Linked DNA regions of Homo sapiens: region 1 is linked to region 2. The links come from fine-mapping of genetic effects on gene expression. A gene starts in region 2. The other region holds a variant in brackets. All regions are shown on one strand. Distances are between the middles of the regions.

What was found. PIP is the estimated chance that this variant, and not a neighbour inherited with it, causes the effect.
Region 1: its variant is the best candidate, but not a certain one, in a credible set for the expression of HIP1R in caudate (GTEx, PIP 0.68).

The regions. Positions count from the first base shown.
Region 1 is chr12:122,805,199-122,816,581 of GRCh38, forward strand. It overlaps CCDC62 (coiled-coil domain containing 62), which reads left to right. Exons shown (of 13, transcript NM_201435.5): 10 at 953-1,097; 11 at 8,072-8,221. Among named protein-coding and RNA genes, the nearest start is that of HIP1R, 25 kb to the right of the region's middle. RefSeq lists a silencer at 7,039-7,214 and an enhancer at 8,400-8,479. The variant G/A (reference allele first, on the strand shown) is at 6,549.
Region 2 is chr12:122,829,647-122,841,029 of GRCh38, forward strand. HIP1R (huntingtin interacting protein 1 related) reads left to right here and starts at 5,811. Exons shown (of 32, transcript NM_003959.3): 1 at 5,811-5,997. The coding sequence starts at 5,905. It overlaps LOC124903040 (a long non-coding RNA gene), which reads right to left and starts at 5,587. Exons shown (of 2, transcript XR_007063501.1): 1 at 5,528-5,587; 2 at 4,909-5,192. RefSeq lists silencers at 42-242, 5,713-5,952, 6,123-6,322 and an enhancer at 5,413-5,462.

The DNA.
Region 1 (11,383 bases), 24 kb before region 2:
TTTTTTTTTTTGTGAGAATTAGTCTGTTTTAATTTTTCCCTCCCTTTTAGATGATCCTATCTTTAGAACTTTCATTTCATTGTATTTTTAGGGGGAACATTCTTTGTTCTATAGTTACCTTTACCTAATAATTTTGTCTTAATTCTTTTTTTTTTTTTTTTTTTGAGACAGAGTGTCTCTCTGTCACCAGGCTGGAATGCAGTGGTGCGATCTTGGCTCTCCGCAACCTCCGCCTCCTGGGTTCAAGCAATTCTCCTGCCTCAGCCTCCTGAGTAGCTGGGATTACAGGCACATGCCACCACACCCAGCTCTTTTTTTTTTTTTTTTTTTTTTTGAGGCGGAGTCTTGCTCTGTCGCCCAGGCTGGAGTGCAGTGGCGCGATCTCAGCTCCCTGCAAGCTCTGCCTCCCGGGTTCACGCCATTCTCCTGCCTCAGCCTTCCGAGTAGCTGGGACTACAGGCACCCGCCACCACACCTAGCTAATTTTTTGTATTTTTAGTAGAGACGGGGTTTCACCGTGTTAGGATGGTCTCGATTTCCTGACCTCCTGATCCGCCTGCCTCTGCCTCCCAAAGTGCTGGGATTACAGGTGTGAGCCACCGCTCCCGGCCACATCCAGCTAATTTTTGTGTTTTTAGTAGAGATGGGGTTTCACCATGTTGGCCAGGACAGTCCTGATCTCCTGACCTCGTGATCCACCCAGATCAGCCTCCCAAAGTGCTGGGATTATAGGCATGAGCTACCATGCCCAGCCTTATTTTAATTCTTATTTGCAAAAGGTATGCATTAACTTATAATATTCTATTCCAATCTATAATGTTCTACTCAAACTTGACCTGCTTCAATAACAAAAACACTTATTTGTCCTTTTAAGATACTTTTGAGTATAAGAGTGATCTATGTATGATATTGTTTTAAGATATTTGTTTTTGTTGGGTTTTCTTATTCTTAGTGAGCTAATTGCCATCCAAGATTCCCACTCTTTGGGTTCTTCAAAATCTGCCTTGAGAGAAGATGAGACGGAGTCCTCTTCCAATAAAAAGAACTCACCTACGAGTTTGTTAATCTACAAAGATGCACCAGCATTCAATGAAAAGGTTCGTATTTTGCTTAGACATCCCCAGCTTACTCAAGCCAGGCCTCTCACCAGCTTTTAATGCTTCTCTAGCAACCACTGTTAGCTTGCTTATTTTGGCTATTCCTCCGTTTTTTTTTTTTTTTTTTTAATTCTAGGATTTTAAGATGCTTTTAAGGCAATCCTTTTATTTATTTTATTATTTTGTGTTTTGTTCTGTTTCTTTGAGACAGGATACTCAGTCACCCAGGCTGTAGTGCAGTGGTGCAATCGTGGCTCACTGCAGCCTCAACCTACTGGGCTCAAGTGATCCTCCTGCCTCAGCCTTCCAAGTAGCTGCAACTACAGGCACATGCCACCACGCCCAGCTAATTTTCTCATTTTTTTGTAGAGACAGGGTCTCAATTTGTTGCCCAGTCTGGTCTTGAACACTTGGGCTCAAGTGATCTTCTTGCCTTGGCCTCCCAAAGTGTGCTGGGATTATAAGTGTGAATCACCGTGCTGGGACTATTTTTTTCTTTCGAGAAAAATTGTATTTTTTTTTTTTTTGGCAACTTGATATATGTTGGTTGTAAAAAAAAAAAGAAAGAAAAAAGAAAAAGAAAAACAAACCACAAGAACAATACAGAAATATAGATATCACCTAACTGCTTGGTCTCAGCTGCCCCTTCCTCCAAATACACAACCCCTGGCAGTGTCTAGAGAGACCCAGGTGACACGTTGGTGGGCTTGCTTACAGATTTCTCTATCTGCAGAGACATGCATACAGACTAATGTGTGGTAAATGGGATTTCATTATATGAGAAAATGTGTGGCAAGGTACAGTGCCTCGTGCCTGTAATTCCAACACTCTTGGGGGCCAAAGTGGAAGAATTGCTTAAGCCCAGGAATTCAGGATCAGCATGGGCAACATAGCAAGACCCTGCCTCTATTTTTTGTTTCAATAAAATTTTAAAAACATAAAAGAGGAAAACATCGCCAGGCGCAGTGGCTCACGCCTGTAATCCCAGCACTTTGGAAGGCCGGGGTGGGCAGATAACCTGAGGTCAGGAGTTCGAGACCAGCCTGACCAACATGGTGAAACCCCATCTCTACTAAAATAAAAAAATTAGCCAGGTGTAGTGGCGGGTGCCTGTAATCTCAGCTACTTGGGAGGCTGAGGCGGGAGAATCGCTTGAAACCAGGAGGCAGAGTTTGCAGTGAGCCGAGATTGCACCATTGCACTCCAGCCTGGCAACAGAGTGAGACTCTGTCTCAAAAAAAAAAAAAAAAAAAGGTAAACATCTGACATCTATGATTTACCAAGATACCAGGGTGGCAAATTGAAATCTTCATCCCACTAATGGGATTACAGGCACAAGGCACTGTACCTGGCCAGACATTTTCTTGTATAATAAAATCCCATTTACCACACATTAGTCTGTATGTGACAGACTAATAGTGACACATTCATTACACCCAAACCCCTTTGGAATTCTTCCTCTGCCCTGTGCGTCCCTCCCTATTCCCAGACAATCACTCACTAATCTGTCTTCTGTAACCCAGATTAGTTTGCCTTTTCTAGAATTTTATATAAATGCATTCAAACTTTTGTGTCCCTCTTGTTTCTTTCACTCAGTGTAATTATTTTGAGATTAACTTATGTGACTGTGTATATAAATAATTCCTTTTTGTTGCTGACAAGTATCCTATTGTGTGGATATATTAGGTTGATGCAAAAGTAAGTATGGTCTTTGTCATTAAAAGTAATGGTAGGCCATTAAAAGTAATCCCAACACTTTGGGAGGCCGAGGCAGGCGGATCACTTGAGGTCAGGCGTTCGAGACCAGCCTGGCCAGCATGGTGAAATCCCCTGTCTACTAAAAATACAAAAATGAGCCTGGTGTGCTGGTGTGTGCCTGTAATCCCAGCTACTCAGGATGCTGAGGCAGAAGAATTGCTTAAACCCGGGAGGCAGGGGTTGCAGTGAACCAAGATCGTGCTACTGGACTCCAGCCTGGGTGACAGAGCGAGATTCAATCTCAAAAAAAAAGTAATGGCAAAAACCGCAATTACTTTTGCACCAACCTATTACCACAGTGATTTAGCCATTCATTTGTCAGTGGACATTTGGGTTGTTTCTGGTGTGCTAGATAATACAAATAAAGCTGCTTGCATATTCATGTATCATAAGTCTTTGTATAGACACATTTTTTTTTCGTTTATCTAGGAATGGAATGCTAGCTAGCTCATATGGTAGGTGTATATTTAACCTTTTTTTTTCTTTTTTTAGAGACAGGGTCTCACTCTGTCGCCCAAGCTGGAGTGCAGTGATGCCATCCTGGCTTACTGCAATCTCAAACTCCTGGGCTCAAGTAATCCTCCCACTGCAGCCTCCCAATTAGCTGGGACTGTAGGCATGAACCATTATGCCCAGCTCATTTTTACATTTGTTGTGGAGATGTGGTCTTGTTATGTTGCCCAGGGTGGTCTCAAACTCCTTACCTCAAGCAATCCTCCTGCCTCAGCCTCCCAAAGTGCTGGGGTATATTTAACATTTTAAGGAACTGCAAGATGTTTTCCAAAGTGGTTATACCAGTTACATTCCCACCATCAGTGTGGTGCTGATGCTCCGGTCCCAGCTGCTCCAGATTCCAGTCAATACTTGCAATGGTCAATTTTTAAATTCCAGACATTCTAATAGGTATGAAGAGGTATCTCAGTGTGGTTTTAACTTTCATTCCCCTAATGACTAACAATGTTGTGCACCTTTTCACACGCTAAACCACCATCTATTTATAGCTTCGATTTCAACTGATAGAGAAGTTCTAGCCAGTTATTCAATCCCAAAGAGACGCTATTCTTTATGTCTGTGTAGAATATCCCTTCTTTAATTACTTCTCCAGATTTACCTCCTCTCTGCACTATGCGAACAAAACACTTATCAGGCCATCAGGCCGGGCGTGGTGGCTCATGCCTGTAATCCCAGCACTTTGGGAGGCTGAGGTGGGCAGATCACCTGAGGTCAGGAGTTGAAGACCAGCCTGGCCAACATGGTGAAACCCCATCTCTACTAAAAATACAAAAATTAGCCAGGTGTTGTAGCTCGTGCCTGTGGTCCCAGCCACTCAAGAGGTTGACGTGGAAGAATCACTTGAGCCCGGGAGGCGGAGGCTGCAGCAAGCTGAGATTGTGCCATTGCACTTCAGCCTGGGCGACAGAGCCAGACCCTGTCTTAAAAAATAATAATAGGCTGGGCGTGGTGGCTCATGCCTGTAATCCCAGCACTTTGGGAGGCTGAGGCGGGTGGATCACCTGAGGTCAGAAGTTCAAGACCAGCCTGGTCAACATGGTGAAACACCATCTGGCTATGGCGAGGTGCCAATGACTTTCTTCACAGAATTGGAAAAAAATACTTTAAAGTTCATATAGAACCAAAAAAGAGCTCGCATTGTCAAGTCAATCCTAAGCCAAAAGAACAAAGCTAGAGGCATCACGCTACCTGACTTCAAACTATACTACAAGGCTACAGTAACCAAAACAGCATGGTACTGGTACCAAAACAGAGATATAGACCAATGGAACAGAACAGAGCCCTCAGAAATAATACCACACATCTACAACTATCTGATCTTTGACAAACCTGACAAAAACAAGAAATGGGGAAAGGATTCCCTATTTAACAAATGGTGCTGGGAAAACTGGCTAGCCATATGCTGAAAGCTGAAACTGGATCCCTTCCTTACACCTTATATAAAAATTAATTCAAGATGGATTAAAGACTTAAATGTTAGACCTAAAACCATAAAAACCCTAGAAGAAAACCTAGGCAATACCATTCAGGACATAGGCATGGGCAAGGACTTCATGTCTAAAACACCAAAAGCAATGGCAACAAAAGCCAAAATCGGCAAATGGGTTCTAATTAAACTAAAGAGCTTCTGCACAGCAAAAGAAACTACCATCAGAGTGAACAGGCAACCTACAGAATGGGAGAAAATTTTTGCAATCTATTCATCTGACAAAAGGCTAATATCCAGAATCTACAATGAACTCCAACAAATTTACAAGAAAAAAACAAACAACCCCATCAACAAATGGGCGAAGGATATGAATAGACACTTCTCAAAAGAAGACATTTATGCAGCCAACAGACACATGAAAAAATGCTCATCATCACTGGTCATCAGAGAAATGCAAATCAAAACCACAATGAGATACCATCTCACACCAGTTAGAATGGCGATCATTAAAAAGTCAGGAAACAGCAGGTGCTGGAGAGGATGTGGAGAAATAGAAACACTTTTACACTGTTGGTGGGACTGTAAACCAGTTCAACCATTGTGGAAGACAGTGTGGCGATTACTCAGGGATCTAGAACTAGAAATACCATTTGACCCAGCCATCCCATTACTGGGTATATACCCAAAGGATTATAAATCATGCTGCTATAAAGACACGTGCACACGTATGTTTATTGTGGCACTATTCACAATAGCAAAGACCTGGAACCAACCCAAATGTCCAAAAATGATAGACTGGATTAAGAAAATGTGGCACATATACACCATGGAATACTATGCAGCCATAAAAAATGATGAGTTCGTGTCCTTTGTAGGGACATGGATGAAGCTGGAAACCATCATTCTCAGCAAACTATCACAAGGACAAAAAACCAAACACTGCATGTTCTCACTCATAGGTGGGAATTGAACAATGAGAACACTTGGACACAGGAAGGGGGACATCACACACTGGGGCCTGTTGTGGGGTGGGGGGAGGGGGGAGGGATAGCATTAAGAGATATACCTAATGTAAATGATGAGTTAATGGGTGCAGCACACCAACATGGCACATGTATACATATGTAACAAACCTGCACGTTATGCACATGTACCCTAGAACCTAAAGTATAATAATAAAAAATAAATAAATAAATAAAAAGAAATTAAGTTTCCTTTTTTTTTTTTTTTTTTCAGACGGAGTTTCACTCTTGTTGCCCAGGCTGGAGTGCAATGGCACGATCTCGGCTCACCGCAACCTCCGCCTCCCAGGTTCAAGCGATTCTCCTGCCTCAGCCTCCCTAGTAGCTGGGATTACAGGCATGTGCCACCACGCCCGGCTAATTTTGTATTTTTAGTAGAGACGGGGTTTCTCCATGTTGGTCAGGCTGGTCTCAAACTCCCAACCTCAGGTGATCTGCTCGCCTCAGCCTCCCAAAGTGCTGGGATTACAGGCGTGAGCCACCGTGCCCGGCTGAAATTAAGTTTTCTTAAAAAAAAAAAAAAATCAGGTGGTGGCTCATGCCTGTACTCGCAGCACTTTTGGAGGCTAAGGAAGGGGGATCACCTAAGGTCAGGAGATCGAGACCATCCTGACCAACATGGTGAAACCCCGTCTCTACGAAAAATACAAAAATTAGCTGGGCGTGGTGGCACATGCCTGTAGTCCCAGCTACTCGGGAGGCTGAAAGGCAGGAGAATTGCTTGAACCC[G/A]GGAGTTGGAGGTTGCAGTGAGCTGAGATCACGCCACTGCACTCCAGCCTGGCAACAGAGTGAGACTCCATCTGCAAAAAAAAAAAAAAAAAAAAAAAAAAAAAAAATTCAGTCTAGGCCCCTTTAAGAGCAATTGGCAGTGACTAATTTTCATGCCAAACTTCACATCCCAAAGTTGAAATTTAATAGGAATAAACGAAGGCACATACCCACATATTTTTCAAGGCTTATAAGCCTTTAATGTTGTCCTATTTTGCAAGTATTTTGACATGCTAAATACAGCATTGACAAGTTGGTTGAGGAGAGTTAACCAATGCCTAGGATTCTTTTATCGCATGGGTGTTACTTCATTAGCTGTAGTAAGTTCTGTTTAAGTCAAATTATTTAACTGAGTAGGTTCTAAGAAATAAAGGGGGCTGGGTGCAGTGGCTCACGCCTGTAATCCTAGCACTGTGGGAGTTCGAGGCGGATGGATCACTGGAGGTCAGAAGTTCAAGACCAGCCTGGCCAACATGGTGAAACCCTGTCTCTACTAAAAATACAAAATTAGCCAGGTGTGGTGGCGGGCAACTGTAGCCGCATCTACTCGGGAGGCTGAGGCAGGAGAATCACTTGAACCCGGGAGGTGGAGGTTGCAGTGAGCTGAGGTTACACTATTGCACTCCAGCCTAGGCAACAAGAGCAAAACTCCGTCTCAAAAAAAAAAAAAAGAGGCCGGGTGCGGTGGCTCACACTTGTAATCCCAGCACTTTGGGAGGCTGAGGCAGGCAGATCACGAGGTCAGGAGATTGAGACCATTCTGGCTAACGTGGTGAAACCCCGTCTCTACTAAAAAATACAAAAAAAAATTAGCCAGGCATGGTGGTGGGTGCCTGTAGTCCCAGCTACTTGGGAGGCTGAGGTGGGTGGAGCTTGAAGTGAGCCGAGATGATGCCACTGCACTCCAGCCTGGGTGACAGAGCGAGACTCCGTCTCAAAAAAAAAAAAAAAGAAAGAGAGAGAGAGGGAGGGAGAGAGAGAGAGAGAGAGAGAGAAAGAAAGAAAGAAAGAAAGAAAGAAAGAAAGAAAGAAAGAAAGAAAGAAAAGGAATGAATTTAGTTATTCTTATTCTACTATTTGATGTCCAGCTTTGCTTTGTAACACCTAAAGACAAAGAAATATTCACAGGTGATCGGGTGTAGTGGCTCACGCCTATAACCCCAGCACTTTGGGAGGCCGAGGCAGGAGGGTAACTTGAGGCCAGGAGTTCAAGACCAGCCTGGGCAACATAGTGAGATCCCACCTCTACCAAAAAAAAAATTGCTCGGTGTGGTTGCACACACCTATGGTCCCAGCTTTTCAGGAGGCTGAGGCAGGAGGATCACTCGAGCCCAGGAGCTTGAGGCAATCAGCTGTGATTGTGCCACTGCACTTCAGCCTGGGCGTCAGAGCAAGAGAAAGAAAAAAGAAAACAATATTCCTAGGTAGTTAGCATTTGTGTTTGTAAACCTAAGCATTTAAAGGTGCCTCTTAATTTCCTGTAGGCTTCAATTGTGTTACCCTCCCAGGATGATTTCTCGCCCACGAGCAAGCTCCAGCGTTTGCTGGCGGAATCTCGTCAGATGGTGACGGACCTGGAGCTGAGCACACTGCTGCCCATCAGCCATGAGAATCTCACTGGCAGTGCCACAAATGTATGCGTTTCATTTTCTCTTGACTATATTTGTCACATCCAAACACACCACTGAACACCAGTGTGCAAATATCACCGGCAGGGCGGCCTTTCTGTTAGAGGGAGAGTTTCTGTGTCTCTAGGGAGGAAAGGGAACATGCTTGTTTTAAGGAGGAAAAAGTTACACTTAGATGTCACTGGACCCAAACTTCCTCTTTCTAATGATCTGGGGCATATGAAGATAAATTCTTGGGGACTTTTTTCTTGGAGGGGGCGGGTACAGAGTTTTGCTCTTGTCGCCCAGGCTGAGGTGCAGTGGCACGATCTCAGCTCATTGCAACCTCCACCTCCCGGGTTCAAGTGATTCTCCTGCCTCAGCCTCCCAAGTAACTGGGACTAAAGGCCTACTCTACCATGCCCGGCTAATTTTTATATTTTTAGTAGAGACAGGGTTTCACCATGTTGGCCAGGCTGGTCTCAAACTCCTGATCTCCAGTGATCCACCCACCTTGGCCTCCCAAAGTGCTAGGATTACAGGCGTGAGCCACCACGGCCAGCTGGAAATGTTTTAAAAAACCAAATTTTATTATAGAAAGTTTCAAGGCCGGGCGTGGTGGCTCATGCCTGTAATCCCAGCACTTTGGGAGGCCGAGGCGGGTGGATTACCTGAGGTCAGGAGTTCAAGACCAGCCTGACTAACATGGAGAAACCCCGTCTCTACTAAAAATACAAAATTAGCCGGACATAGTGGCACATGCCTGTAATCCCAGCTACTCGGGAGGCTGAGACAGGAGAATTGCTTGAACCCCGGAGGTGGAGGTTATGGTAAGCCGAGATTGTGCCATTGCACTCCAGCCTTGGCAATGAGCAAAGCTCCACCTCAAAAAAAAAAAAAAAAAAAAAAGAGAGAGAGAAAGAAAGAAAGAAAATTTCAAATATGCACTGAAGTGGAAAGAATGGCACGGTCACTCACCTTTGACCACCATCGATTTTATCTTACCCCATCCATACACGTTTTCTTTGGAAGCATTTTAGCTCAGCATCATATCATGTCACTCATAAATATTTCATGATCATGATGTCTCTCTAACAGATATGGACTTTTAATTTTTTTTTTTTTTTTTTTGAGACTGAGTTTTGCTCTTGTTGCCCAGGCTGGGGTGCAATGGCACGATCTCAGCTCACTGCAATTCTCTGCCTCCTGGGTTCAAGCAATTCTCCTGTTTCAGCCTCCCAAGTAGCTGAGATTACAGGCACCTGCCACCATGCCTCACTAATTTTTGCATTTTTATTAGAGACGGGGTTTCACCATGTTGACCAGGCTGGTCTCGAACTCCTGACCTCAAGTGATCCACCTGCCTTGGCCTCCCAAAGTGTTGGGATTACAAGCATGAGCCACCCTGCCCGGCCTAATTTTAATTTTGTGTATTTATTTATTTTTGAGACAGCATCTTCCTCTGTTGCCCAGGCTGGAGTGCAGTAGCTATTCGCAGGCGTGATCACAGCTCACTGCAGCCTCAAATTCCTGGGCTCAAGCAATCCTCCCACCTCAGTCTCCCAAGTAGCTGGGACCACAGGCACGCACTGCCATGCCCACTCTGTTTGCCAGGCTGCTTGAACTCCCGGCCTCAAGTAATCCTCCTGCCTCAGCCTCCCAAAGTGTTGGGACTATCAGCATGAGCCACCATGCTCAGCTTATTTATTTGTTTTTTAGAGACAGTCTTGCTCTGTCACCCAGGCTGGAATGCAGGGCCAACTTGAACCTCCAACTCCCAGGCTCAAGTGATCTTCCCACCTCAGCCTCCTGAGTAGCTGGGATTACACGTACACGAAACCACACCCAGCTGATGTTTTTATTTTTTGTAGAAACAGGGTCCCACAATGTTGCCCAGGCTGGTCTCAAACTCTTGGGTTCAAGCAATCCTCCTGCCTCAGCCTCCCAAAGTGCTGGGATTATAGGCGTGAGCCGCTGTGCCTGGCCTGGCTTTTCTTAACAGTGTCTTTTAAAAAGCGAAATTTAAAATTTTGATTACTTCCAACTTAACAGGTTTTTTTTTTTCTTTTTTGAGACGGAGTCTCGCTCTGTCGCCCAGGCCTTGGTGCCAGTGGCGCGATCTCGGCTCACTGCAAGCTCCGCCTCCCGGGTTCACGCCATTCTCCTGCCTCAGCCTCCCGAGTAGCTGGGACTACAGGCGCCCGCCACCACACCCGGCTAATTTTTTGCATTTTTTGGTAGAGACGGGCTTTCACCGTGTTAGCCAGGATGGTCTCCATCTCCTGACCTTGTGATCCGCCCGCCTCAGCCTCCCAAAATGCTGGGATTACAGACGTGAGCCACCACACCCAGCCTATTCTAGTAGTTTTTTTGTAGATTCCTTAGGATTTTCTACACAATCATGTCATTCATGAATAGAGACAGTTTTATTCCTTTTTCCAATATTTATGCCTTATTTCATTTTCTTCCCTTACTGCTCTGGCTAGGACCTCCAGATGAGTGTTGAATAGAAGCAGGGGAGCAAACATCTTTGCCTTATTTCACGAAATGCTCTCTGATGGCAATTCTTGCTTAGTCCTTCAGATTGGTATTTTGTTAGATTCAGAGTTCCCTGGAGCAGTTTCTATGTGCCGCGAATAGATCCAAAACTAGAACATTAATCATTTTAGAATCAAGATGCTCACTGCCATGAGCCTAAACAGGTAGTTGCAGAGATTACCTTAAAGCAGAACAGGATCCAAAACTAGAAATTTTTCAAAGTATACCATGTGTGCCATATAAACTTTTCAAAGTGGAAACCGTGATGGACTCTGGTGTTTCCTAGGAAGATTTCTTCTTCACAAGCTGTCTCTGAGGCATTAGTGAAGCGTTGCATTTATATTGGGGCAGAGGAAGGTTTTTAATGACAAAACTATTTTGGTGCTTAGCTATCCCTTTAAATGTATGCAGTGAGGCTGCTTCTTCCCCTGTGTCTGGGGAGAACCTTTATGACTTTTCTAGTCATTCTTTGGCAGCTATTTCTTTAAAATACATTTTTTTAATTGAGATATAGGCCAGCCATGGTGGCTAATGCCTGTAATCCCAGCACTTTGGGAGGCCAAAGCAGATGGATCACTTGAGCCAAGGAGTTTGAGACCACTCTGGGCAACATTGAAAAACCCCACCTCTACAAAATAAAAAATTTTTTTT
Region 2 (11,383 bases):
GTCTCGAACTCCTGACCTCAGGTGATCCGCCCACCTCAGCCTCCCAAAGTGCTGGGGTTACAGGTGTGAGCCCCCGCGCCCGGCCAACAGATATTTAAAAACAGAAATAGAAATACCCCCAAAGAAAAAAAGTTCTGAATTAAGATAAAACATAAACACTAAAAGCAGCTTTACCCCAAAAGTGCCAAGAGAATGCGTCTAGAACTTCTTGGCTGTGTGGGATAAGGTTGGCTCCATACCTTCCAGGAAGGAGACTGAAGACTGAATCCTTGTTATGGTCTGGCAAACTGATCCTGGAGTTTTCTCCTGTGGCTTTGTGTGGTTTGACACCTGTAGCTGGGGTGGTGGGTTTGCAGTGTTGTACTTTTGTTTCTCTTGAGCCATTTGATGATGATTTTGTTAGGACACATTGCAGGAAAGTTCATTATTCTAGGCCTTCAACAGAATAATCTTAGCAACCTCCAGTGTGATAGAGAACAGAGTGAACAGGATCAAAATAAGAAACCAGACACATTCATCAAGACTGCAGCTGACAAGGAGGTTTAAAAACCAGAATGGGGCCAGGTGCAGTGGCCCACGCGTGTAATCCCAGCACTTAGAGAGGCCAAAGCTCGCACATCATTTGAGATCAGGAGTTCGAGACCAGCCTGGCCAACATGGCGAAACACCTCTCTACTAAAAATACAAAAATTAGCTGGGCGTGGTGGTGGGTGCCTGTAATCCCAGCTACTCAGGAGGCTGAGGCACAAGAATCACTTCAACCTGGGAGGCAGAGGTTGCAGTGTGCTGAGATTGAGCCATGCCTCCAGCCTGGGCAACAGAGCCAGACTCTGTCTCAAACAAACAAACAAACAAACAAAAAACACCCAGAATGGTCTTTGAGAGAAGTTGATTGAATGAAAAGTGTACATGAATCAGTTCTTTAAAGGATGATGTCTGGGTTCTCAGCCAGATGCATGCTTAAGAAACCCAACCACAACAACAACAAAAAGAAACCCAACAAAAAATCAAAGAATTTTGAGCACACAGTAGGTGCTTTGCTGGCCACTGGAGACACAACAATGAGCAAAGCAGACAATCTAGTCGTAGAAACACACTAATCTAAGAATCCCATACATAGTTCACAAGAGACTGGTTAGTGCTACAAAAGAAAGCTTTGAGATATGATGACAGCTTATAATAGGGACTCAGGTGAAGGGTGGAGTGTTAAGAGAATGCTTCCTTAAAGAAGTGACATCTGAGCCAAGAGTTAAAGACAAGTGGATGCTAAGTAGGGCGAACGGGAAGCAGAAGAGAATTCCAGGCAGTAGGAACAGCATGTGCAAAGGCTCTGAGGTGGGAGGGAACATGACGCATCTGGGACCTGATGGGCCAGGATGGTGCAAGATGAAGCCAGGGACAGAGGCTGGGGCCAGATCATGCATACGAGTCGATGAGTCAGTGTGGGTGTGGTAGCATACCATGTTTTAGTGGGCCAGATGATGTAAACTCTCCTGTGCATCTTGGATTTTCCTTAAAACGAGGTCTTATTTGTATTCCAATTGCTTTGCTTTTGTAATAGGGGTGAGCAGGAATTCAACAGCCCTCGAGATACACCAAAACAGAACCCTGATTCTGATGGCATGAAGAATCTCAGGCCGGGAGCAGTGGCTCCTGCCTGTAATGCCAGCACTTTGGGAGGCTAAGGTGGGAGGATTGCTTGAGTCCAGGAGTTCAAGACCAGTCTGGGCAACGTGGTGAGACCCCCGTCTCTACAAAAAATTTAAAAATTAGCCAGGCATGGTGGTGCACACCTGTGGTCCCAGCTATTCTGGAGGCTGAGGTGGGAGGATCATTTGAGCCCAGGAGGTTGAGGCTGCAATGAGCCATAATCCAGCCACTGCACTCCAGCAGGGGTAACAGAGCAAGCAAGACCCCGTATCCCCCCCGCCAAAAAAAAAGCCAGTCAGTGACAGGGACAATAGTAGACCAGGCCTCCTGCCTGAAGATGTTAGAGAGATGAACCAGAAAAATTAAGAGTGGGGAAGTTTGGGCCAGGCACAGTGGCTCACGCCTGTAATCCCAACACTTTGGGAGGTCGAGGCAGGTGGATCACCTGAGGTTGGGAGTTCAAGACCAGCTTGACCAACATGGTGAAACCCTGTCTCTACAAAAAATACAAAAATTAGCCAGGCTGTGGTGGCGCACGCCTGTAATCTCAGCTACTCAGGAGGCTGAGGCAGGAGAATTGCTGGAACCCAGGAAGCGAAGGTTGCTGTGAGCTGAGATCATGCCACTGCACTCCAGCCTGGGTGACAGAGGGCAACCCTGTCTCAAAAACAAAAACAAACAAACAAAAGATTGGGGAAGTTTGTATCCTTATGTCCTCAGTGATACTCTTTCGTGAGATCAGCTGTATGTTGAAGTATACCAAATGAGGTATTTGTTTACTCACTCTTTCAGCCCTTCATTTGACATACATATTGAACATTGCTATGTGCCAGGTGCCCTGCTAGGCACTGAGTACATAAAACTGAGTAATACAGGGTGGCCCTCTAATAGCTCAAAATCTTACCTACAAGCACATAAAGTACAATCCCTTAGAGATGTGTTAGGAGAGTGCTCTCAGGTCCTAAACAGCAAGCCTGAGGTAGTATAGTACTGAAAGTCATAGACCACAAAATGTAGTCCAAATGGCATGGGTGTTGCGGGCACTGGCCTTGAAATCAGGCACATCTGGGTCTGGATCCCGAATGCAGCGTTTACCAGTTGTGTGAACCTGGGCTAAACTCTCTGAACCTGAGCTTGTTTGTTGGTCTGTAAAAAATACCATCAAGAGGCCAGGTGCAGTGGCTTCGGCCTGTAATCCCAGTACTTTCAAGGTGGGCGAATTCACTTGAGCCCGGGAATTTGAGACCAGCCTGGACAACTTAGCAAGACTCTGTCTCTACAAAAAAACTTTAAAAATTAGCTGGGCATGGCCAGGCGCAGTGGCTCATGCCTGTAATCCCAGGACTTTGGGAAGCCGAGGTGGGTAGATCACGAGGTCAAGAGATCGAGACCATCCTGGCCAACATGGTGAAACTCTGTCTCTACTAAAAATACAAAAATTAGCTGGGCGTGGTGGCGGGCGCCTGTAGTCCCAGCTACTTGGGAGGCTGAGGCAGGAGAATTGCTTGAACCCGGGAGGCAGAGGTTGCAGTGAGCCAAGATCGTGCCACTGCACTCCAGCCTGGTGGCAGAGTGAGACTCCATCTCAAAAAAAAAAAAAAATTAGCTGGGCATGATAGTGCATCCCTCCAGTTCCAGCTACTTAGAAGGCTGAGGTGGGAGGATCACTTGAGCCCAGGAGGCAGAAATTGCAGTGAGCTATGATTATGCCACTGCATTCCGGCCTGGGTAACGAAGCCAGACCCTGTCTCAAAAAAAATAAATAAATAAAAATAAAGTTGTTGATGCTTTATTTTTTATTTATTTATTTTGAGAGAAGGTTTCACTCTGTTGTCTAGGCTGGAGTGCAGTGGCATGATCTCAGCTTACTGCAACCTCTGCCTTGCAGGCCTAAGTGATCCTCCCACCTCAGCCTCCTGGGTAGCTGGGACTACAGGCACGCCATCACGGCCAGCTAAGTTTTTCGTATTTTTTGGTAGAGATGGGGTTTCACCATGTTGCCCAGAATGGTTTCGAACTCCTGAGCTCAAGTGATCCACCTGCCTCAGCCTCCCAAAGTGCTCGGAATACAGGCGTGAGCCACTGTGCCGAGCCTCATCAACAACTTTAAAGAAGAATAAGTGAGATACTGTTTAACAGATGCTGAGCCTGGTGCCCGGCACAGTAATAGGCTCTGTGATTATTTAAAAAGCCAGTTGCTAATGGGAAGTCTCTGTGGCAGATGTGCTAGACCTACAGGGGCTGTTGCCTGGTTGAAAAGGGATGCTGTATATGCGTGAAGGGTCACAGGAGAACCACTTTTGTTCCGTGTGGAAAAAGGAGTGTGAGAAACAGCTGGAGTACCGCAAAAAGCCCCTTTACTGTGGTCTTTATTAGAGCACAGCTATCAACTAAGTTGACTAAGTTACATATGAAGGGTTTAGCCCAGTGCCTGCCAAATAATAAGCATTCAGTACATATCAGCTATTGTGATTCTACCGTTATTCTGATAAAGAAGCTTTTTAGTGATTGGAATTAGAGAAAACAGGATTAATTTCTCCTTTTGGTGCAGTGACAGGAGAGTCTTGGCAAATGTTATCTTTTGGGGTCAGCTCTAGCTCTTGGGCTGGAGGGTGAGGAATCAGTTAAAGAAAAGGGTCCCTGGCGGGGTGTGGTGGCTCACGCCTGTAATCCCAACACTTTGGGAGGCCGAGGCGGGCGGATCACCTGAGGTCGGGAGTTCGAGACCAGCCTGACCAACACGGAGAAACTCTGTCTCTACTAAAAATACAAAATTAGCCAGGCGTGGTGGCACATGCCTGTAATTCCAGCTATTTGGGAGGCTGAGGCAGGAGAATTGCTTGAACCCAGGAGGCGGAGGTTGCGGTGAGGTGAGATTGTGCCATTGCACTCCAGCCTAGGCAACAAGAGTGAAGCTCGGTTAAAAAAAAAGAAAAGAAAGAAAGAGAAGAAAAGAAAAGAAAGAAAGAAAGAGAAAGAAAGAAGAGAGAGAAAGAGAGAAAAGAAAGAAAAGAAGGAGGAAGGAAAGGAAAGGGAAAGGGAAAGGAAAGGAAAGGAAAGGAAAGGAAAGGGTCTCTGACCTCAGACAGGTTACAGTCTCACTAGGGAGACAAGGGTCAGGATTACGTGGGCGTCATTTTCCTCCTTACAGGCAGGCGGTGCCTCTCCCTTCAAAAGCAAGGGACCTTTATGCATGATTCCACATCTGCATTCCGATAGGAAAGGGAAACAGCAGAAACACAATACCCATCTGAGAGCTACGCTTAGAGAGGACTCTGGGCTTTTATTTATTTTTTTACTTCAGTCTTGTGACCAGTAATTTTAAGGGAAAGCCAATAATAATGTTTTTAAAAAGCCTCACGCCACCCCTGGCGGCATCTCCTCGGTGTACTTTGCTGTTCAGATCCGCCTGCCTTCTGTGCCAGCCTAACAGCGCCCGGCCTCAGCCCCCATTGTCCCTGGAGCTGGCGAGGTGTCCGGTTGCGGAGCCGGCGGCGTCTCTGGAAATGCATCCTGCATCCCCGCATGGATAACAGCTGCAGCTATGTCAGAATTGCACAAAGAGGGGAGAGTGTCATTGTGTGCCTTTTGACACATACATTAAGACCAAAAAGGAAAAAAAGCGTCTATCTGTGCTGCCACCGACCAGACTCATGGAGGCCAGATTTTCTCCAATTAACCAGATCTTGCCCTGGTGCAGACAAGACTTAGTGAGTTCGGAGGAGGGGTGGGGAGAGGGAATTGGCTGGGGTCCCTACCCTGGGTGGAAGGAGGAGGGAGGGGTTCCCCCTCCCCCTTCCCCTACCCTCCCCTCCGGGTTTAGGGAGGGGATTAGAGGTGGGGAGGAGCTGGGGGGGCGTTTGGCCTGTGCCCCAACCTTGTGAGTGAGGTGGGGGTTGGAGGTGTGCGGGGGGCGGGGCGTGTGCCGGGGTCGCCGCGGGATGGGGGGTTGGGGATGTGCGGGGAGAGGCGCGTGTCCCGAGATCGCGGGGGGTGGGGTTGGAGGTGTGCGGGTGGAGGGGCGCGCCCTGGAGTTGGGGGCGGGCGAGGCGTTTGCGGGCGCGGGGGGCGGGTTTGGAGGTGTGCGGGGGAGGGGCGTGCCCTGGAGTTGGGGGCGGGGCGAGGCGGGCTCCTCCCCGGCGGGCGGGCCCGGGCGCGGCGCGGTGGCCTCGCGGTGCCTAGGCTGGGGCTGCCGGACCGTGAGGCTGTGAGTCGCGCGGACGGAGCCGGACAAAAGCGGGCGGCGGCGGCAGGATGAACAGCATCAAGAACGTGCCGGCGCGGGTGCTGAGCCGCAGGCCGGGCCACAGCCTGGAGGCCGAGCGCGAGCAGTTCGACAAGACCCAGGCGAGCGGGCGGCGGGCGGCGGGCGGCGGGCGGCGGCGGGCGGGCGGGCAAGCGGCGTCCCTGACCCCTCACGCGCGAACGGCTGGGGCCCGGGAGGCGCCGGCCAGGGGCGGGGGACGGCGCGGGGGCAGGGCCTGTGTCCGCCCGGGCTCTCCGAGAGCTCCGCTGCCGCCCCCCGCCGGCCTCCGCGGCCCGAGCCGACCGGCGCGCAGGTGAACCGGAAGCCGCGCTCCCCGCTCCCGCCGGGCGCTCGGGCCCAGAGGCGCCGGGGCTGAGGGGGCCGGGGTCAGGGTGTGCGCGGGCCGGGAGCGCCGGAGCTGAGGCGGCGGGGGACGGAGATGGGGCCGGGGTTGGGTGTGCGCGAGCCCAGCGCGCCGGGGGTCGAGGGGGCTGGGGATCCAGGTGCTCCCGGGGCCGGCGCGGCCCGACTGGGGTCCCCGACCTTCCGTGCCGCTCCTTGCCGGCTCCTGCCCCCGTCTCCTACCCCCTGAAACCGATGCCCCCACGGGCAATTTCCTTAAAGGAAATTCCTTAAACTCCCAGCTTCCTTCTCTCGTGAGCGGTTTCCCAGGGCTGCACAGTCTCCTATTATTTGCTGGGTGAAAAGCTTCTCGTATGTCGCCAGACTTGTTTGCCCGAGCGCTGCCCACGTATAAATAGGTGCACACCCCCTCATTAAATACCGGCGCCCGACAGACAGAAACTTCCTGGGGCTCCCTTCCTGCGCCTCCCACGCTTGTAACTCTTCCAGATGATGCCTATCCTGGGAAGGCGTTAGAAATGAAATAAGGGCGCGGGTGTGCGTTTTGTACTTGTGTTTGTGCCGGGGACCCACGATGCAGACGTTGCTGCGTTTCTGGTTTCCTGTTGCTTTTTATTTTACAAACTCTTGAAGTGCTCTCAGGCTTGGGGGATGGGCGGTGGAGGGGGGCATACTTGTTTATTTGCCAAAATAAGTCAACCAAGACTGAAATGGCTGAAAAATTTTACTCTAGAGATAAAGGAAGCCAGAGGACCCCTCCCACTCCTGTCTAAAGCAGGTTGGTGACATTTGCGTTTGTGGCGGCTATTTGCAAGTTCCGTCCCACTTGTCCTTGCAGAGAGCTATGACTTCTGCGGTTGCCTTCACATCTAGTTAGCACACGCACTCTACAACAGCTTTCGTTTTGAAATGAGAGAGAACGCAGGGAGACCTTCTAACCTTTGTGCTTGGGATTGACCCAGAAAGCGATAATAAATCCTGAGGATATCAAGGCTTTAGAAATGCGAAGTGCTGGAACCCAGGTGGCTGCAAATTACCAATTTAGCCTTGTGATCTTCATCACCATCAACTGGTTCAGCCCGGATAGCCCGTCATTTTAAAAAAATTTAAAGTCACCAATACATAATTAATTGTGCCAAGAACTTGTAGATCATAGGGAGAAAACCTGAATTGGCAGACATATCTGGATGTTGTCAGAAACTTTGTTTATTCACTGAGTTTTTTCTCGTGCCTTTGAGGACGTATAAAGAGGTCTGATTGCTACATGGAGGAGATGGGATGTGAAGGACCAACTTCATTGATCTTACTCTTAAATGATAAGAAGTCAAGGGCAACCTTCCTGAGTGTCAAAGAGAGAATCTCTGATACAGGACCACACATTTTAGTGGTTGGTTTGATACACAAGAAGGTGGATTTTTTTTTTTTTTTTTTAAAGACAGAGTCTCTCTCGTTGCCCAGGCTGGAGTGCAATGGCATGATCTCAGCTCGCTGCAACCTCCGCCTCCCGGGTTCAAGTGATTCTCCTGCCTCAGCCTCCCAAGTGGCTGGGACTACAAGCGTGCGCCACCACACCTGGCTAATTTTTGTGTTTGCAGTAGAGAAGGTGTTTCACCATGTTGGACAGGCTGGTCTCGAACTCCTGACCTCAGGCGATCCACCCGCCTCACCTCGGCCTCCCGAGATGTTGGGATTACAGGCACCTCTCCGAAGGTGGATTGTTTTGTTTTGTTTTGCTCTGGTTTTTTCTCAGAGGCTAAGAGGGCCACTAACAATGAATAACTTTGTAATGGGTGAATGTCACAGGTCTTACCTATTCTAGGGCCCCATTTTCTGGAAAGTTGGAGTTTGAGTTCATTGTCTGGGTTTGCTCGTCTTCACAGTGACTTATTGAGGAATGTAAGAATGAGGTTTTGTACGTGGTTAATATTTAATTAGATCGTTCCCAGAAATAATCAGGTGAGCCGCCAGCCAGGTCCCGTGGTGGAAAAGGACCTGGAGAGCTGAGGTTGTTACTTCCATGTCTCCTTCGGGACAGAAAATAGCACATGCAGTCCAGGGACCTGGCTTCCTTTGTAATACGCTGCTTGTCTTGCATTGACCACAGCACTGTGTGCTGTGGCAGGAGCACTAGGCTGGCTTAGAATTTAAATATTCACTAGCCTGCCAGCCTCGCTTTCCTCCCCTGGGCTCCTGGGTCAGGAGGAAGATAATTGCTTTCCTGTGAGCTTTTTTGACAGGACACACCCTGTTTGCAAATATCTGTGGGGTTAGCGCTCAGGAGTGTGAAGAGAGGCGATCATGTGCCTGCTGGGAGCTGGTGCCTGTGATTGTTGCATGGTGTGTGTGTATAATCCCAGGGGAATGTCCAGAAAACCAGTGTATGCTTTTCTTCCCTATGACTTTAGTCCCTTTGGTTAAAAAAAAAAAAAATCCTTTTCAAAATGGAGGTGACAAACTTTTATTGTCTTGTTGCTGTTTTCTGAATACAGAATACTACAAAATACAGCATGCCTGTATTTGGAACCTGAACACTGCCTGTACCATTTAAAAAGAGGGTGTGGTATCATAAAGGCACTAGTAGGTAGATAGACCTAGGCTCTAGCCTGTGTCCCTGGCAAGTTGCTTAACTTGTAAATCTATGTCCTTGTCTGAAAAAAAAACCATACAGATCGTTCCAGCTATCGTATAGGGCTGTTGTAAGGTGTAAGAGAGAGACCGTGTGGCAGCTAGAACCTGTGACTACGTTAATGACTTAGTAAGGCGTTGCAGGTGGAATTAGAGTTTTTCATCAGCTGAGATGGTCCTTGAGATGGGGCGATTCTCCTGGGCTACCAGGTGGGCTCAGTGTAATCACAAAGGTCTTTAAATGTGGACAAGGGAGGCAGGAGAGGAGGTCGGACTGAGTCCATGTGAGAAAGACTCACTGCCTGCTGCTGGGGAGGAGCCACTAGCCAAGGAGTATGGGCATCCTCCACAGCCTGGAAAAGGCGAGGAAATGGATTCTTCCCTAGAGCCTCCAGGAGGAAACACAGCCTTTCTGACACTTTGCTTTTAGTCCTGTGAGACCTGTTTTAGACTTCCGACCTCCAGAACTGCGAGTTTGTGTGATTTGTTATGGCAGCCATAAGGAACTAATACATCCAGTATGTAAACATGAAAGAGCACCTAGGGCATAGAAGGGCCTCAGCAGATACTTGGCCCAACCGTCTTTCTCCCTTCCCTTCCTCGGCTGAAAAGTTTAACATCTAGAGAAGAAAGCATCTTTGAAGCATATCATGAAGAAGGACTCAGTTAGGAGTACTGGAAATGCTAATGGTGAGTCCTGCCTTTTCCTGATCTGTGAACCTTTCTGCTTCACTGGGCCTCAGTTTCCACTGCAGGCCCACAGGATGGAGATCAAGCCCAGAAGATTCCTCTCAGGTTAGGATGAGAGAAACCCTTTACTACACTGCAAGGCCTCTGGCCACTGCTGAGTGAGCCAAGTCTGGCGGGTGAGCATTAACTGTAGACATGAAACTACCCAGGTGTAAGGGGTTCCTGTGGGGCAGGGACTGTCTAGGGCAGCAATATGTGGAAACAGTTCATAGGTCCAATTTTCCAGGTTGGTGACATACATGCTTAGCATCCCCCGTGAAACCAAAATCCTGTCAAGATTAACATTTATTGACAACTGAGGGCTTCTCAGCCCCGGCACACAGTAGAGCAGTGTTGTCCAGGAGGAACCAGAGGCAAGCCACGTGTGTACTTTTAGATTGTCTAGTAACTACTAGAAAAGTCAACAGAAACAGGTGCGATTAACTGTAATAGCATATTTTATTTAACCCAGTATATCCAAAAGCTAGCCCTTTCAACATGTAATTGCCACAAAAATTATGAATAGGAGAATTTACATTCTTTTTCTCCTACTAAATCTTTGAAATAGGTATGCACTGGACACTCACAGCTGATCTCAGTCTGGACTCACCACCTTTCCAATACTCACAGCCCGCACCGGCCAGCGGCTACCGTGCCGGACAATGCAAGTGTTAGAATCACCTGGTGGCTTTTAGAAAAGGGCAACATTTACGTGTATAGGAGTGATTTGCCCGCAGCATGGCATGGGCGTTGAGCTCGTTGTTCCTGGGCATGCGCACTGCTGTCTCGCCCCGTGACATCCTCTGCTCGGTTCCACCCCATCAGCCCACATGGTGATGCCCTCGTGGTGATGCCCGGCAGGCCGCTGACTTCCCGACCCCTGGGCTGCATATTGCCTCCCTGGCAGAGCTATTCCAGAGGCTGTTCTTGGTCCAGGTTGGGGTGGGAAGGGGCCACCCATCCTTGACCTCCCCCTCCCTGTCTCTGATGTGTTTTGATGCCCATGACACATTCCTGAGCGCCGCTTGCTGTCTTACCATTTGGCCTGTTCCTGTAGCTTTGGGGTGTGCCCCAGGAAGGTCCGAGTCATCTTTGTACCCTCTAAGAGGTGGAGAGATGCCAACTGTGGCCACGTGTGGAATGGTAGGGCAGTCAAGAGCAAGCTCCAGGTTCAGCCCCTGGCTCTGTCCCTTCACCACTCTGCCTCAGTTTCCTTATCTACAAAATGGGGGCAATAATACTACACACCTCCTGGAGTGGTTGTGAAGAAATTTACAGGTGTTCATAGTGCCTGGTGTGTAGTGAATGCCGTGTAAGTGTTGGCTGTTATGTTGTGTTCAGAAGAGCAGGCTGGGCTGAAAGAGAGAAACAAGCTCCCTGTTGAGCTCTGCCCGGTGCCCTTAGATTAGCTGTAAGCGGAGGCCTTGTGTGCTGGGGCGGTTGGGGAGAAAAGTGGATCTGCACAGAGGTTGGGGGGACTCAGGCAGGTGGGGACAGCCCTTCCCTGGAAGAGTGAGCCCAGAGGTGCCACATTATGAAGGCTCTCCAGGGTTGGGAGGATATTCTGGGGGACGACAGCCTCAGGAGGTGCAGACAAAGCCAGCAGGAGCCTTGCCTGGCAGAACTGCTCACCCTCTGAATAGGGACAGGCGCAGACGAGGCCCCTTCTCTGACCTGATCCAGAAGCCAGCCTCCCAGCCAGCGCTGCACCGGTCATTCGCGAATGAAACCCAGCTGGCCACTGGATCCCAGCAGCTTAAAGTGGAAAGC